Linked DNA regions of Homo sapiens. The protein of the gene in region 1 purifies or fractionates together with the protein of each later gene. This does not show direct contact. Each region holds a gene or a part of one and is shown on either strand. Other genes may lie near its edges.

Region 1 (6,041 bases):
CCCGGGAGGTTGAGGCTGCAGTGAGCCGAGATCGCGCCATTGCACCCCAGCCTGGCTGGGTGAGACAGAGTGAGAATGTCTCAAAAACAAAAACAATAAAACCACTGGCCACCGCCCCCGCCCCCCCCCAAAAAAATTGGCAAGGAGCAGGAGACCTCAGAAGTAAAAAATGGCAATATCTTGCTTTTTTTTTTTTTTTTTTTTTTTGGCTCACTGCAACCTCTACCTCCCGGGTTCAAGTGATTCTTGTGCTCAGCCTCCTGAGTAGCTGGGATTACAGGTGCATGCCACCATGCCCAGCTAATTTTTGTAGTTTTAGTAGAGATGGGGTTTCACCATGTTGGCCAGGCTGATCCCAAACCCCTGACCTCAAGTCATCTGCCCGCCTCTGCCTCCCAAAGTGCTGGGATTACAGTCATGAGCCACCACACCTGGTATCTTACCTTTTTAAAAGGAGTCTGTCATCCACCACAATGGTCTAGGGTTCTAGGGTTCTCCCAGCCTCCCTCAGCTGTCTCCTTTCCCTACCTGTCCCTGTGGAGGAGTGCCAGGCAGGAGTGGAAAGAATGTGGCAGGGAAGGATCCATCCAAGTCTAAACTGGGCAACCATTTTGGCTTAGCGTCCAGGAGTTGTGGCACCTGTCCACCGCCAGGTGCTATGACGTCGGCTCTCCCAGAACCTGGAAGGAGCTGAACTGGTCAGTTGTAGGTCTCTGGAGACTACAGCTGCTGGGAGGCTGCTCTAAGCTGGCTCCTGAGGGGCACACCACCGGCCAGGAGGAGGCCAGAGGACTGCTCCAGGACAAGAAGTACAAAAGGCATGCAAGCAGGTCTGGCAGGCAGAGGGCAGTGTGGGCGGGTGGGGGTGCTGTTCACAGTGGCCCCCACCTGGCCAGGAAAGCCAGGACCCACTGCCACATGCCTTCCCTGGCAACAAACAAGGTCTTTCCTTCCCCAGGAAGGGTGTGTGTGAGGGACACAAAGGCAACGGAGCCCAGATGAATGGCAGAGGGAGGTTTAATGGTGTCACCTTGTCTTGCTAATGAGCCAACACAAAAAAAAAAAAAAAAAAAAATGCAAGTAAAAAAAAGTTTAATCACACAGCACTTTATACAGATATCGTAAGCAGTAGGCATTCACATCTCCACATGTACAATGCACTGGGAAGCACAGCCCCACCAGTCACTCCGGGTGTTTCTCAAACAAGATACCGACTCGGTTCCAAATGCCACGGTGTGTGGTCCGGCTCCATCCTCCCGCAGCTCTGCTGGCTGGGCGGTCACAGCACAGCACAGGTGTGGAGCCCACTTAAGGCTGACAAGACGCATCATGCTTTGGCTTTTTTTTTGTCTTTTTTTCTAATAAGAGTTAATATCTTTGCTTTTGAGTTTTTTTTCCAACCTTAAATATTACATACATACACCAAAAATTACATAGCTGCAATGTGCTCAACAGCATCCTCTCGGCCTGGAGCTTCACATTATCAAAAGCTTAGAAAACTTGTAAACCTCTGGGCCTGTCTCTGGGCACTAGGAGAGCCCCCGCCGGCCGTCCCCTTCGGATTGAGCCTGCAGTTTGTAAGCGAAGGGCTGACAGTAGGCCTTCTAGTCCAAGAGAGGGCTGGCTCGCTTGGAGTTCAGTGAGCTGCACGCCTGTCCCAGTGTGACCATGTGATGGGGGAGGGGCCCTAGCACTTGCCCTGGCCTTGTGCAGCTGCTCTTGCCCCCAGCAGCCTCCGACAGAAGAGCAAGGCACCTATAGCTGTTGCTTTCCCTGCAGCTCCCTGGTCCTCAACTCCATGTGCATGTGTGAAGGCCACCACCTCTCCTGGGCGTCACCCGGAACCTAGCCTGGTCCCAACCTCTCTTAGAGAGCAAGTTCAACAGGCCTGAGGGCTATAACGTGGTCGACAGGCCATGTATAGCCGGGAGTCAGTGACAGCAGCTACAACTCCCAAGGGATAGTGTTGACGCTGGAGGACTAGGGAGGACCTGGGTGGTGGTGGCAGCAGGAGGGTCTGGGACACAGGGAGGCTTGAGTTGAACTAAACAGGTTGAAAGGGACCAGGGGAATTGTTGGCGCAACCCACACTTCATGCAAGGCACATGTGCTCTCCTGCGGGTCTGCAGGGAACCGGCCCAGAGAGCCCCGCGGCAGGCCCTGGAACACCCGCCTCTGACCTGAGAAGGGGCAGCAAGGGAGCAAGTGCCGGACATTCTGCTGGGGTGACAAATGGAAAATCGGCAACAGGGTTCCGATTTTCTTTGCCACAGGGGACCCGCCTGTTGAAAGCTCGCTTCAAAATAGAAACGGCAGCATCTCAACACACTTCTTGCACTTCAGCATCAAACTCACCTTGGGGAGAAGAGGGCAGTGGGTTTGCAGTGGGGACAGAGGGGCATGGGAAGAGGGGTGATTCCGGGGGGGAGTGAGCAGGCGGCGGCTGGCCTCTCCCACGGTGATGCTCTTTCCTCTGTGCCTGGCAGCTACTTGTCCTCTGTGCACTCCGGCATGCCTGCCTCTAGCAGGGCAGCCCGGAACTGCGTCAGGACACCCCGGATGCTCTTGATGAAACCCTTGGAAAGTGGGAAGAGGGGGAAGCCGATGTCAGGGTAGCCACTCTTCTCAGGTAAGAAGCTCCGGTAGCTCTTTCTCCGCTTCTTTGGTTTCACACTGGGTGGCACCGATGCGTCTGGTGCGGTCTCCGAAGTCTGGTCTGTGTGGTCCCTGCTAGCTGAGGCCAGGCCCTGGGCACCGCCCTCTGAGTCTGAGCCCTGGGAGGCCTCTCCTGGGGCTGGCCCTCCATCCTCAGGTTCTTGTTGGCCGGAGTCTGACAGCTCGGCTACAGCTGGGGGCTCTGGCGAGCTGCTGGCCTTGGGCACCCCGTTGGGCAGTGCCTGGGCCTTCTCCAGCAGGGCATGGGTTTCCAGCCAGGACTCGATACGGTTCACCAGCCGCCAGCCACCAGTGCTAAAGTGTTGCCTGATCTCCTGCTCAAAGACCTCGGGGGGCCGCCGCACCAGCTGGGTCATGGACTGCACCACGCGGATCAGCGCCATCTCATTGTAACAGCGACTGTTTTCATAGCCTTCCTGCAGGCCTCGGTCACTGTCGAAGCCGGCTTCGTTGTAGTATGGTTCATTTACCAGGATCAGACCTGTGTGGGCGGGACACCTTCCCTCAGTGGGTGAGAGAGGCCCACAATGCAGGCCTACCCTCCACCTGCCAGGGGGACTATCAGAGTCACTTTCCTCCACCGGCCCTCCCTTGTCCGCACCCCCGCTTCAGCCCAACTGTACCTTGGATGGAGATGAGCACCTGGAGAAGGCTGGACTTGCTTGTCCACCTCTCTGTCCCCTGAAACACACAGGGCACCATCAATTCTGTTCCCCAGGCCCCTATCCACCAGTGGCTCTTCCTCCTTCTTGGCTGGGGGCCTGGCCCTATACTCACCTTTCCAATCCAGGTGCCCAGGAGGCTGACACACACCTTCCCATTGTCATACAGGTTGGGGTTCAGGCGGCCACTGCATTGGGAGAGGTAGCAGAAGTGGGGGGGCACGGCTGGGTAGATGTTGGGGAGCTGGATGTCAAACAAGTAGAGGCCATCCTCGTAGGGGGTTCGAGTGGGGCCCTTGATGAGAGCTGAGAAGAGGTCCTAGGTAGGGAGGGAGGGAGGGAGGCCAAGGTTGGCAGGGGTGGAAGGGGGTGTCCTACATGTGGCATCTGCATCTGCACCTGCTCTTTCCCAGGACACTGTGCAGATCACGCAGGAAGAGCAGCACCTGGGACTCCAGATGCCACCAGCAGTGGAGAAGCTAAGGACAAATCTCTCTCTGCAGAACAGCCTGGAATCTTTTTTTTTTGAGACAGGGTCTTGCTGTGTCCCCCAGGCTGGAGTACACTAGTGCAATAATGGCTCACTGCAGCCTCCCAAGTAGCCGGGACTACAGTGTGGGCCACCGTGCCCAGATGATTTTTTTATTTTGTGTACAGACAGGGTTTCACTATGTTGCCTAGGTTGGTCTCGAACTCCTGGGCTCAAGTGATCCGCCTGCCTCGGCCTCCCAAAGTGCTGGGTTTACAGCCCTGAGCCGTCACTGTGCCTGGCCCTTGCCTGGAATCATTGAACCCTGGCTAAGAGAAATACTCGAAGTGAGTTTTTATCTTATCAGGTGTTTTTCCTCATAAATCATTACTTTAAGACTGTATTCCAGCTGGGCGCGGTGGTTCGTGCCTGTAATCCCAGCACTTTGGGAGGCCGAGACGGGTGGATCACTTAAGGTCAGGAGTTCAAGAGCAGTCTGGCCAACGTGGTGAAACCCCGTCTCTACTAAAAATACAAAAATTAGCCAGGCGTGGTGATGCATGCCTGCAGTCCCAGCTACTCGGGAGGCTGAGGTGGGAGAATTGCTTCAACCCGGAGGCGGAGGTTGCAGTGAGCCGAGATTGTGCCATTGAACTCTAGCCTGGGTGACAGTGCGACGCTATCTCAAAAAAAAAAAAAGATTGTATTCCTCAGCCAGACGTGATGGCTCACACCTGTAATCCCAGCACTTTTGGGAGGCCAAGGTGGGAGGACTGCTTGAGGCCAGGAGGTCAAAACCAACCTGGGCAACATAGTGGGACCCTATCTCTACAAAAAATAAAAAATTAGCTGGGCATGGTGGTGCATACCTACAGTCCCAGCTACTCAAAAAGCTTAGATGGGAGGATCACTTGACTCCAGGAGGCTGAGGCTGCAGTGAGCTATGATCACACCACTGCACTCCAGCCTGGGCGACAGAGTGAGACCCTGTCTTTTATTTTTTGGCTTATGTGTTTTTTTGAGATGGAGTATAGCTCTGTCCCCAGGCTGGAGTGCAGTGGTGTGATCTTGGCTCACTGCAACCTCTGCCTCCCAGGTTCAAGCGATTCTCTGCTTCAGTCTCCTCACGCCCGGCTAATTTTTTGTATTTTAATAGAGACGGGGTTTCACCATGTTGGTCAGGCTGGTCTCGAACTCCTGACCTTGTGATCCGCCCACCTTGGCCTCCCAAAGTGCTGGGATTACAGGCGTGAGCCACCACGCCCGGCCAACCCTGTCTTTTAAAAACAAAACAAAACAATTCCTCTAAACACCTGCTCCAACCCTTATCCCCAACAAGGCAAGTAGTACAAGCAGTTTCAAGCTGAAAGGCAGTTCCAGGCTGGTGAGGCCTGGGGAAGGGGGGATGGTCTCACAACCAGAAGCTGACAGTGAGGGTTTGAACTCCATGGGGGAGGTTGGGAGACCACCGCTCCACAGACATCTGGAATCTGTGCATCTATTTGCGTGCATCTGTGCACACACGCGTGTGTGTGGGATCTCAACTGACAGGGCAATGGGCGAGGTCAGTGATGAGCTGAGAAGCAGGGAAGGCAGAGCGCTAGCTGGGGCGAGGGAACCTCTGCACATGCTCTTATCGGTGCCACCCTGGGAGCCTCCAGGGAATGCACTACTTTTCTTCTCCTGAGTGAGATGTGGGGAAAACAGAACAAAACAAAAAATACTGTTTCCATCTTCCCTCAGCAGAGCTGAGACAGGCTAGAATTTTCAAAAGGAATTTTCCTACAACCCAAGAAAAAACCAAAAGCGTTATTAAGAATCTCAAGCAGCACTGGGCCTTAGGACTCTGCCTAGCCCTGTTCCAGGGTTGTGGCTACTCCGGGCCCATCTCAACAGCATCCCGCTTGGCTGCTCTCAGGATCGCTTGGCTGCTCTCAGGATCCCTGCTCTTTCTTTTCTTACTCCCTTCCTTCCAGGACAGGGCCAGAACTGGGGCCTCAGACTCAGATTCAGAGTCTAGCATAGTGCTTGGCTCGATGCACAGGCCCAGTAAGGGACTGCGGAGTCAACAAGGTGGCAGGCAAACGGGCTTGCCTGTTCCGGAAGGATGCACTCAGCGCTGCCTCAGTAAACATGACTCAGAGACACTAGGCCCCGTCCACGAACAGAGGAGTGGGAAAATGGAATGTGGTGTGGCCACATGCTGTCATCCTATTTTGCAGGTAAAAAGGAAG
Region 2 (5,116 bases), on another chromosome or scaffold:
CAATGCCCAGGATCTTGCCCCTCTTCCCACATGGACCAAAAGGCTCAAGCAACCATTACACCTCCTCTCCTATCACAGCCAGCTGGACAGTCCCACACTACCCCAGAGCAGGACCTTCCCTTTCCAACCACTAGTGACGGGACAAGAGATCAGCCCAAGACATCCAAGCACTGGGCTGGTAGGCAGCTGACCGTGCAGCTCAGTGCCACAGTTCAAGCTGGGGCCGCTGGACTGGCAAGGCCTTCACAGGAAGGGAAAACGGACTGGCCAGCAGGCACCACGAACACATTTCATGTGGGCCCTCTTCCCAACTTTGCTTGGTGTGATTATGATACAGTTATATATAAGCCCTAAATTAAAGGACTCTGTGTTCCTTGCAAATGGAAAGAATGCTTTCATCTAAGTGTTTTAAATCTGATTCCTGCCTGGGGAGTCGAGCAGTAGCCCACCAGGAGGAACTGGAGTTTGGTGAGAATCACAGAGCTGGGAGATGCCAGAGCTCCACAAAAGGAAATTTTATTTCTTGCCTTTAAACAAAATAAGATGCTCTCAGAGCTTTTTTTTTTTTTTTTTTTCCTCCCTGGAAAGGAAGTTTCATTATGTTGCCCAGGCAGGTCTCAAACTCCTGGCCTCAAATGATCCTCCCACCTCAGCCTCCCAAGGTGCTGGGATTACAGGTGTGAGCCACCACGCCCGGCCCAGAGAACTTTTTTTTTACTGCAGAAAACATTTTTATAACTTTAGAACTTTTCTAAAATACTACTTTGTCAGCTGAACAATATAGAAAAGTGCAGAGGCAAGTGCCTTTCCAGAACCGCGTGGTGACTTAGAAGCGGGGCTTGCGCTTGCGGCCGGTGTACTGGGTGTCAGGTCTGACTTCCCTGTGCAGAAAAGGAATAGGACAGTCTCAGAAAAAAAAGATCAAAGCAGCCCTGGACCCTTCAAATAAAGGGAAGCTCTTCATGGCAATAGTCATCCACCCCCCACCCACCCTGCCAGCTCCCAGGCTGGCACTCACCTGCCCTGGCGCCTGTGCCGCTCCTTCTTCTCCAGCACCCATGCCCGACTCTTCCTCACCATTCCCCGCCTCGACATCCTTAATGGGAACCTGTGGCGGAGACACAGCTATGAGCTGATGGACAGCTGATGGATGGGGCTGCCCGACTGGCCCCCATGTGAATCCATGGCAAGCTTACCTCCGAGTCTGGTGGCCTCGGATGCCCCTTCTCTCAAATGCTCCACCTTCCCTATAACACAATTCCCCGCTCTGGACACCCTCCTTCCTGATAACATCCATCCGGGCCACAGAGGTTGTTGGGTGGGCAGAGGAGGAGAGAGCTGGGCCGGGCATGGAGACCTAAACACCAGCGAGCAGTCTGTTCCCTCTTCGGGAAGCAGCTAAGCAGCAGTAAGCAGGCCGCTTTCTACCAATGCAATGACACATCATCACCTAGACTTCAAGAGCACAGTCGACAGTTCACAGCAGGAGCTTAGGGTCCCACAGCTTGGGGGCAGGAAGACAGGGATGGAAAGGAGGGTCTGAAAAGGAAGGACTGAGGGGTATGAGGGAAGAAGGAAAGAGGGCGGGGTAACCCCGAAGACCCCTGTGACCATCCGTAGAAACCAGAGACAGGGCAAGCCAAGGAGCTGCCATTCGGATGCCTGAGCCTGATGAGCCAGCACAAAGCAGGAGCAGCTGCAGAGCAGGGCTGGGGACACAGGAGGAGTCATCTCAAGATTCTACAAAGAGTACAAAGTGAGGGCAGAGTGGCGAACCAGGGGGCAAGAGGTGAGCCATGGGAGAAGCAGCAAGGGGGAAAGTCATCAATGGAGCTAAAGGAAGGAGGTGAAGACGGGGAGTGCCCCAAAGCACAGGTCCCAAGAGAAGTGGGGGCCCAGCCCTGCAGGAGGCACATGAGAGGCATGGGAGGGAGGCGGCCAGGAGGAAGGGAGGAACAGGCCAAAAAGAGAGCCTGGAGACTGATTAGGTAAAGACTTAAAAAACTTTTTCTTAATTCACCTGTTTATTTAAAATAAACAAGTGTCCTGAATGTGGTTAGACTGAGATGACAGTAACGGGAGAAGCTCCTCCCTGCCCTGTACCTCATCTGAGGAACTGGAAGTGAGAGCCTACAGAACGAGGGATGGCAAGGTACGTGCTGGGCACCCTCAACACACTGCCAAGATAGGTGGCACTACCCCTACTTTTTGAATAGCTGAGGAATGGATGCTCAGGTCATTCAACTTACCCACATTTACTTTTAGGACATGTCGTTTGAAGACACCAGTGTAAGGACAAGAAGGATCCTAAGACACATGGAGATAAGGCAATGTGTACTTCCCCTGGGAGGGAGGAGATGGGAGTGCTCCCTGGGAGCACGAGATGGGCGCCTCAGAGAAGAGGTCATCCAGAAGGGTCCCAGCTCCCCATGGGGAATGGACTAGGGAAACTAAGGGAAATGAGCAAAGACCCAAGGGGTCAGGCAGCATAAACCTATGGTGGACGTGAGGAACATGCATGGCTGTGCCCAGCTGTGGGCCTTCCAAACACATGCATTTTGGGCTCATTTTTCCTCTTAAATGTCTTAAAGGTCTTAAGACCTTTCCCTCATGTCAACTGGACCTCAGATATAACCTCCCTCTTCACTACCTTATAATCAATTATTCATTCAGAAAAATACTGAGCACTTTTTACTAACAAGACACTATTTTTAATGTCAGGGATATAATACCAGTCCTCACCAAGTTTTCACTCTAGCTGGAGATACAAATAATAACCAAGTCAACTGGTATGTGTATGACTTAGAGCAGTGAAGGGTGTTAAGGAAAATCAACATGAGCGGGGAGCACAACTGCAATGAAGGCACTAAAAGAGCAATGACAAGATACAACTTACATTTTAGAAAAAAAGAAAAAGACCAGTCTTGCTGCTATGCAGAAAATAATCTGAAAGAGGCAAAGACTGCAAAGGCAAGGAGACAACACAGGCAGCTGTTCAGCAATCCAGGCTAGGGGCAGTGCTGGATTAGGCTCGTTGGAAGCAGGGAGGGTCAGCACGGGGATACACACTGAGGGACGGACAGCAGGGCTCAATGACAGGCTGACAAGATGTGAAATGTAGGGAAAGACAGGAATGATCAAGAATGGTAAAGAATGGAGGATGAGGCCAGGCGCAGTGGCTCACACCTGTAATCCCAGCACTTTGGGAGGCCGAGGCGGGCGAATCACGAGGTCAGGAGTTTGAGAACAGCCTGGCCAACATGGTGAAACCCTGTCTCTACTAAAAACACAAAAAATTAGTTGGGCGGGCGCCTGCAATCCCAGCTACTCGGGAGGCTGACGCAAGAGAATCGCTGGAACCTGGGAGGCAGAGGTTGCAGTGAGCCGAGATCAAGCCACCGCACTCCAGCCTGGGGGGAAAGAGTGAGACTCCATCTCAAAAAAAAAAAAGAATGGAGGATGGCCAGGCATGGTGGCTCACATCAGTCATCCCAGAACTTTGGGAGGCCGAGACAGGGGGATTGCTTGAGGCCAGGAGTTCAAGATCAGCCTGAACAACATGGCAAGACCTCATCTCTACCAAAAACTTTAAAAATTAACCAGGCATGGTGGCATGCACCTGTAGTCTCAGCTACTTGGGAGGCTGAGGCAGGAGGATCATTTGAGCCCAGGAGTTCGAGGCTGCAGTGAGCTAAGATTCCACCACTGCACTCTAGCCTGGGTAACAGAGAGAGACTACCCATGGAAACTCCAGGTATAGACACTGAGGGGGCATTGGGAAACCCCAGGTGGCAAGAGACTGAAGATACACATTTGGGAATTAGGACCTTCCGGCTGGCATTTACAGCACCACAGGTAGAGAAGGGATCCAATCCAGGCTGGGCCCAGCACTCGAAGAGGAAGCAGCAGTGGAGTGAGGAGCAGCCAGGAAGGCTGAGGAAACCACGATGGTGGGTGGAAGGCCAAGTGAAGGAAGCGTCAAGGAGGGAGCGCACTGCTGTCTTTGACCCTACCGAGCAGGCACATTAAGGACATGAAAAAAAGTCACAAGTGACCAGATGTGGCTTGATGGAAATTGGTGGTGGAGTTGACAAGAACAATTTGTGATGAGACAGAATTGTCAGCCTGAGAAGTGGATTGAGAGAATGGTGGGAGGGGAAGAAGAGGCAGGTCTGAGTTCTGCTATGAAGGGAAGCAACAACGGGGTGGTTAGTTGTTGTTATGGGGTTAAGGAAGGAACTTTTCTAGAAAAGGAGAAATTGTGCAGCATGTCTGTGTGCCGACAGCAGTGACCCAGGAGAGTCAAGATGAGGATGCAGGAAGGAAGGGAGAGCCACAGCACCCAAGGGAGAGGGTCCCAGATGCAGGTGGAGGGCAGCATCAGAAAAGAAGGAGACAGCCTGCCAGGCGTGGCAAGGGGAAGGGGCATGTGTGGGCTCACAAAGGGAGTCCAGGCTGCATGGCTGCACCCAGACATCCAGGACCCCAAACCCCTAGCCCCAAACAGGCACAGTCCAAATGGGACCTGATGTTTCTACCGTCACCTTGGTGTCCCTGCTGCATGTGACCTGAGAGGCTTGGGTGAGGGCAGAGAGAAAGTCCATGTCTAACAAATGTGGCAGCCCCCGCTGCAGCCGGGGCAGGCTTCAGCAGTTGCTTTACCTCTCATTGGTGAACACAGACTCCCTGGGTTCAACTTCATCCTGATTTTCACTCAGCCCCTGCAGGAACCAAAGTGCACTCAGGTCACCCTGGAGAGTTCTCAAACCATCTGCCCCACTCCAGAAGCCCAGGCACCCAGGCCTGACCCTTCCGACAGGGACGAGGTCCAGTCCCACGAGAAGGAACTGACACGCCTTTCTGGGACCTGCAGAGCAGAGGTCTCTGCCTCCAGATTCCAGAGGATGTGAGCACTCCAGGGTCTGCACTCTGGGGCTGGGCCCTGCTTCCCCACCAGTGTTCTCCCAGCAGGCTCTGCAGGCTGAGCCCCACTGCCTGGAAGTCAAAAGACACAGGCCTGCCTGCAAACCCAGTGTCCCTCACCTCTGGTATAAAGGTCGAAGGCCCAGAAAACAAGCAGAGGTAGAATCTGAAAGGAGAAAGTGCAAAGTGAGGG

What was found.
Region 2: the proteins of UBE2O (region 1) and BUD23 purify together in Homo sapiens (affinity purification with mass spectrometry; 7 studies listed by BioGRID and IntAct, with this or other methods). This does not show direct contact.

The regions. Positions count from the first base shown.
Region 1 is NC_000017.11:76,388,457-76,394,497, forward strand, and holds the end of UBE2O ((E3-independent) E2 ubiquitin-conjugating enzyme), read right to left. Parts: intron 3,658-6,041; coding exon 3,454-3,657; intron 3,358-3,453; coding exon 3,300-3,357; intron 3,158-3,299; coding exon 2,487-3,157; 3' UTR 1,000-2,486; downstream 1-999. UniProt on the Homo sapiens protein: E2/E3 hybrid ubiquitin-protein ligase that displays both E2 and E3 ligase activities and mediates monoubiquitination of target proteins. Negatively regulates TRAF6-mediated NF-kappa-B activation independently of its E2 activity.
Region 2 is NC_000007.14:73,693,597-73,698,712, reverse strand, and holds the end of BUD23 (18S rRNA (guanine-N(7))-methyltransferase), read right to left. Parts: intron 5,090-5,116; coding exon 5,044-5,089; intron 4,722-5,043; coding exon 4,663-4,721; intron 1,248-4,662; coding exon of another isoform or gene 1,197-1,247; intron 1,109-1,196; coding exon 1,019-1,108; intron 882-1,018; coding exon 827-881; 3' UTR 501-826; downstream 1-500.